Linked DNA regions of Homo sapiens. The protein of the gene in region 1 interacts with the protein of each later gene in a pairwise test. Each region holds a gene or a part of one and is shown on either strand. Other genes may lie near its edges.

Evidence for each region.
Region 2: the proteins of KANSL1 (region 1) and NINL interact in a two-hybrid assay, tested with the Homo sapiens proteins (one large-scale study listed by BioGRID and IntAct).

The regions. Positions count from the first base shown.
Region 1 is NC_000017.11:46,039,930-46,043,429, forward strand, and holds part of KANSL1 (KAT8 regulatory NSL complex subunit 1), read right to left. Parts: intron 1-3,500. UniProt on the Homo sapiens protein: Non-catalytic component of the NSL histone acetyltransferase complex, a multiprotein complex that mediates histone H4 acetylation at 'Lys-5'- and 'Lys-8' (H4K5ac and H4K8ac) at transcription start sites and promotes transcription initiation.
Region 2 is NC_000020.11:25,452,197-25,454,364, forward strand, and holds the end of NINL (ninein-like protein), read right to left. Parts: intron 1,447-2,168; coding exon 1,255-1,446; 3' UTR 501-1,254; downstream 1-500. UniProt on the Homo sapiens protein: Involved in the microtubule organization in interphase cells. Overexpression induces the fragmentation of the Golgi, and causes lysosomes to disperse toward the cell periphery; it also interferes with mitotic spindle assembly.

The DNA.
Region 1 (3,500 bases):
TCTCTAGTGTTCAAGACCTACACTCCATCCTCCTTTAATTTGCCCAGTGGCCTGACACTTGGCAGGGCAAGTGCTGTCATATGGAAGATCTGTTTACGTGAACATTACTGAAGGTCATTCTTCTATTTGCAAGCAGGTCACTTTAGCTTTTTACTTTCAAGTCCCAAAGGGAAACAAAACAAGACACCTTTTTGGTTTGGTTGATGGAGTTTTTGTTCTTGTATCCTTGTTTGTTGAATTTACTGGTTTGAAAACATCCTGTTTCTATTCTAGAGATTTAAAAACATATTTAAGCCTACTTCTTTTCTATCAATATAAAGTTAATCAGGATGCAATTATTCAACAATATTCATTATCTATGTTATCAGGCACTGTACTGAGTACTACATACTCTCTCCAAATAAGAACTACATACCATTCTCTCTTTCCTTCCTCTGTGGCTCCGCCAATTCCCATCATGAGATTATCGGGGATTTTTAGCTGACTGGTTAATGTTCAATATCACAAATCAACATCTTTTGGACTGAATTTTTTATGCTGTTTCTTATCTTTCCATTTTCTTAGATTTTTCCCAAGAATATATCCTTGAGCAATTCCTTTAGAAAAGGAATTTCTAGATTTAAACCATTTTCCTCTCAAACATTTAAAGCTATTCAATTCTTCCGTGTATTCTAATATCCAGTGCTATATTTAAGAGGGAATCGGATTCTTTCTTACTTGTAGGTGGTCTGGTTTTTGCCTTTTAAGCTTCTGCAAAAAACAACAACAAACTTGTGGTATTACACTGACTCTACAGATCAATTTGGGGACAACTTCCATGTGTTCCACCACCAATACTGAATCTTTCAATCGACTGACGTGGTATCTCTCTCTCCATCTATTTACGTTTGTCTTGATTTTCTCTTGACAGCGTTTAGTTATTGTTGACATACCGGTCTTAAATACAATTTGTTAAGTTTATTCCTAAGAATTAATGTTTTCTGATGGGCAGAAGTTGGAAGAGTTTGCAGGGTTCAGAAGAAGACAGGAAGATGAGGGAAAGTCTGGAACTTCTTAGAGATTTGTTAAATGGTTTTGACCAAAATACTGATAGAAATACGGGCAGTGAAGGCCAGGCTGACAAAAGTCTCAGATGGAAATGATTAAAGATAGTACCTTTTAAAATTTCAACTTCAGTTCTTCATTACTAGTATATAGAAGTACAATAAACTGCTATATAATGACCTTGTAGCCTGTGAAACTACTTCGTTATAGACTTTTTCTTGTTTATTCAGTAGGATTTTCTATAGACATAAGTACATCATCTACAAATGGAGACTGTTTTACCTTTTCTTTCCAATCTGTATTCCTTTTTTACTTCTTGCCTATTACTCTGACTGGAACCTCTGGTGCTGATGTACAACTTTTAGATTTTCCTTTTCATGTTTTCAATATTCTGACATTTCACCACCATGGATAGCGGTGTGAGTCTGTTTTCAAGCTTCTGCAAAGCTTTCCAGGGATATTCAAATCTAAAAGCCAGCACATTTTTCCTCACCTCCCAGTTCCTCCTGGGAATCGGTAACCACTTGGGGCATGCTCAGAAGTTCCCGCCAGAGTCCCTATCCACTGCTTCAGAATAGAATGAAACACCACTACTTCAAGGAAGAAGGCTCTGGTGGGGTGAGAGGACAGGAAAGGAAAATCTAACCTAGCTATTCCAAAATGAGTCCAAATTTATCACCCAGACAAATGCCCAGGTCCTATCACTACTCCTTCTGCCCTTTAATTCTGGGTCAAAAACCTCCTGTAATCAGTTCCCACCTCACAGCAACTTACTCCTGGCATGTGCTTTGGGCTATCTTTCTATTTATTTCTTCACAGTTATCTTGTCTTTATCCATCTTTCAAAAATAATTACAAATTCCAGTCACTGATAGCATGTCTTCTAGAACTATTAGAAATTTATTTTGTGTGTGTGTGTGTGTGTGTGTGTGTGTGTGTATATTTTTTTTTTTTTGAGACGGAGTCTTGCTGTCGCCCAGGCTGGAGTGCAGTGGTACCATCTCGGCTCACTGCAAGCTCCGCTTCCCAGGTTCATGCCATTCTCCTGCCTCAGCCTCCTGAGTAGGTGGGACTACAGGCACCCGCCACCTCGCCCGGCTAGTTTTCTGTATTTTCAGTAGAGACGGGGTTTCACTGTGTTAGCCAGGATGGTCTCGATCTCGACCTCGTGATCCACCTGCCTCGGCCTCCCAAAGTGCTGGGATTACAGGCGTGAGCCACTGCACCCGGCCTGTTTAATATATTTTCTAAAAGCTTATGGGGTTTTGGGTCCCATAGAGCACAGAGGATATGCTCAATCTGAACTGAGGATAAGAAGGCAGGGAAGAGACGTCTAAATTAACATTACTGAACCCATTATTATCTGCCAGGCACTGTGTGTTTATCATCATGCGTGTGCCACTTAATCTTTGTAACAGTTCCATGAGGCAAACACAATTATGCTTATTTTAAAGATAGGGAACAGGTGCAGAAAGGTACATTAACTATGTCCAAGGTTACATAGTTTAATGAGTAACAACCAACTTTCAAACTCAAGATTATACAACCCTAAAGCCCATACTCTTAGACAATATACCTTGAGGCTACTCACTGATCCAGAGGATGGAGAGGATTCTGTAGTAAAGTCAATTATTTCTCAAATTACTCCCAAGAAATAGACAGTACAAAATATTTTCCAAGCCAGTTCTGCAGAGTAAAAGAAATTTAGCCACTCCTGCCTATGGTATAGATGATGAATTTCATGACACTGAATGTTATGCCTTCGAGGACTGAATGTTAGGCCTTCCAGGACTGGAATAAAAATCTGAGTTGGGGAAAAAAAAAAAAAAAAAAAGCTAACATTCTCAGGGATGATTTTTCCCAGTGGGTAAGCACCCTCAGCTCCATGATTGCTGGGCTTTATGACAGTGAAACAAATTAGGAAAACTATTAAAGTTTTAATGAAAACAAACATTTGCTACCTGTCCAAGTGTAAAAACACAGTCTCTGAGGACAGTGCTGTCTTCTCAAACATTTTTCATAATCACTCTTTTCCACACTTAAAAACTCAGCTATACCAAATCCTAGGAAATAAAGCATTGTCTAGAAGCATTCGGCCCTGTAAAACAATCTGAAAGCTGGGCTGAGCTGGAATGTATAAAAGAGGCTCAAGAAAGGAGACGAGGTCACTTCTGCCCATCCCACAATACCCCTTTGTCAGCAGAAGAGTTACTCCCACTTGGCAAAGGCTGTGTATGTTTTGTATATATATGTAATGGAACTCCAAAAAACATAGATTTTATTTTTTCCTTTTATTTTCCCCCATCGTTCTCCCAAATCTGAAAATGAAGCCAGGAAAAAAAAAAGGGACAGGGATATGAGAGACCTGGTTATAGTGAAAACAGCAATGACTAGAAACAAGTAGGCCTGGATTCAGGTCCTGGTTCTATCTCGAGTAGAAGGAGAAAGCAAGAACAA
Region 2 (2,168 bases), on another chromosome or scaffold:
TAACTGGTAGAACTAGTCCCCATACATTGCTCTTCTTTCTTCAGAGTTTTCCTAATTGTTTTGTTTGCTTATTTAGTTGTATGTAAAAACTTTAGAATGTCTTGTCCAATTCTGGGGTTGATTGGGGCATGTAACATCTGTATTTATATTGGGATTAATTACATTTATCATCAGTAAACTTTGAAGAACCAGTCAACTTCATGTTGCCGAATCTTCCAAAGAACCGACCTTTCCATCTGTTCCAGGCTTTGTTATCTTTCCACGGTGCTGTGACATTTTTCTCCTGCAGAAAGGAGAAGACATGCCAGCTTTGGGATGGCGGCTGCCCCGGGAAGAGGGAGGAGGCTGAGAACAGAACAGGCTCCCGCCCTCCACAGTGCTGTGGCAGGATATTATTCTTACTAGATATGTTGATGGGCACATGGGTGTTTCTTACATAACTATTTTCCTCTATGTTTGAAATATTTTATAGTTTAAAAAATTAAAAACAAACTTAGAAGTCAATTTTAATAGAAAAGAATTTATTGCAAATACAGTGACTTTTTATATTACAGTAGTACATTCCAATCAGCCATATGGCCATAATTTGCATACATTTCAAATATAAAACTATACTTTTTTTTTTTTTTACATATAGTACAATTTCCAGTGTGATGACATTTCAATGGGAAAAAGATTGTGCATTTGCAATAAACACCATCATTCCTGAGTCCACAGATAAGGTCCCCGGAGAAGGGGCTTCCCCTCCTTTCTCGCTGGGTTGACGTTCCCAGCGAGTGAAGCCTTTTCTGGAATGTGTGTACGCACCCTCCACCAAGAGTTCTAATAAGCTAAGCTTAAAGCAGAACAGTGAAATGGCAAAACTGTACAGAGCCCTGACTTTACATTTCACTCTGACAGCCAGGGTCGGAAGCACCACATGGAAAGTGCTGTCCATAACTGCTCACTTACCTGCTCCTTGCTGACAGCTCCCAGGATCTGGCTCCAGAGAGTGGCAAAACTGGGAATTTTGCCAAGGGAAATTACTCAGGACCGCTAATAAAAACGCCGGCTTCTGCAACATGCATATTCCCCCAGCCCCCACCTCCATCTTGCCCAGGGCAGACCATTCATTAACTATCTGCGGGGTGAACAAAGAATCCCAATCCTCAGATGTCCCAGGACTCATGGCTCATGACCCACGGAATCTAAGGCAGCACAGTGGCTTAATTTAAAAGATGTGCTTTCGAATGAATCCTAGAAAATAATCTGTCTTTACACAGAGAGGGCTGCGGGGGCAATCCTACTGACGAGTTTGTTGAGAGCGCGAACTTTTTCTTCCAAGAGGCGGCTTTGTTTCTCGGCGCCTCGCTGCTTCTCCTCGGTGGCCTGAAGTGCTCTCACCAGGTGGGCGTTCTCCACGTACAGCTCCTTCAGCAGCAGGTCGGACTTCGTGTTCTTTTCAAACTAGAGAGGGGAGGAAGCCATGCTTTGCATGAGGCCGGTGGAGAAACGCTACAGATCAGCCTGCTCTCTTTTATCCTCCCAGGTTTACGCAAACCACAGTTTTGGGCTCTTAGAAATCTGACCCAAGGCCGGGGGCAGTGGTTCACGCCTGTAATCCCAGCACTTTGGGAGGCTGAGGTGGGCAGATCCCAAGGTCAGGAGATCGAGACCATCCTGGCGAACACGGTGAAACCCCATCTCTACTAAAAAATACAAAAAAATTAGCTGGGCGTGGTGGCGGGCGCCTGTAGTCCCAGCTACCCGGGAGGCTGAGGCAGGAGAATGGTGTGAACCCGGGAGGTGGAGCTTGCAGTGAGCAGAGATCGCACCACTGCACTCCATCCAGCCTAGGCGACAGAGCAAGACTCTGTCTCCAAAAAAAAAAGAAATCTGACACAAATACTGGATTATAATGACAAGTTTTGTTACCCTGGCATGAGAGGAAATTGAGAATCTGCTGGGCTATGTGATGGAGAAAACTTGAGGCAGCTTTGTGCCGTGAAACAAGGACTTCAGGCAAAAGTGGCCAGTCCTCAAAAGGCCCTGGGACGGTCAGAGTGTGGAACAGGTTCATCTGCGTATGCGCTACTGGCTGTGATGTCAGCAAGGCCAGGAGCCAAGAGAAGCAGGGGAGGGAGCAGGCGCAGGACAGGCAGTACTGAGGCCCTGGGCTGTGGCCTGTG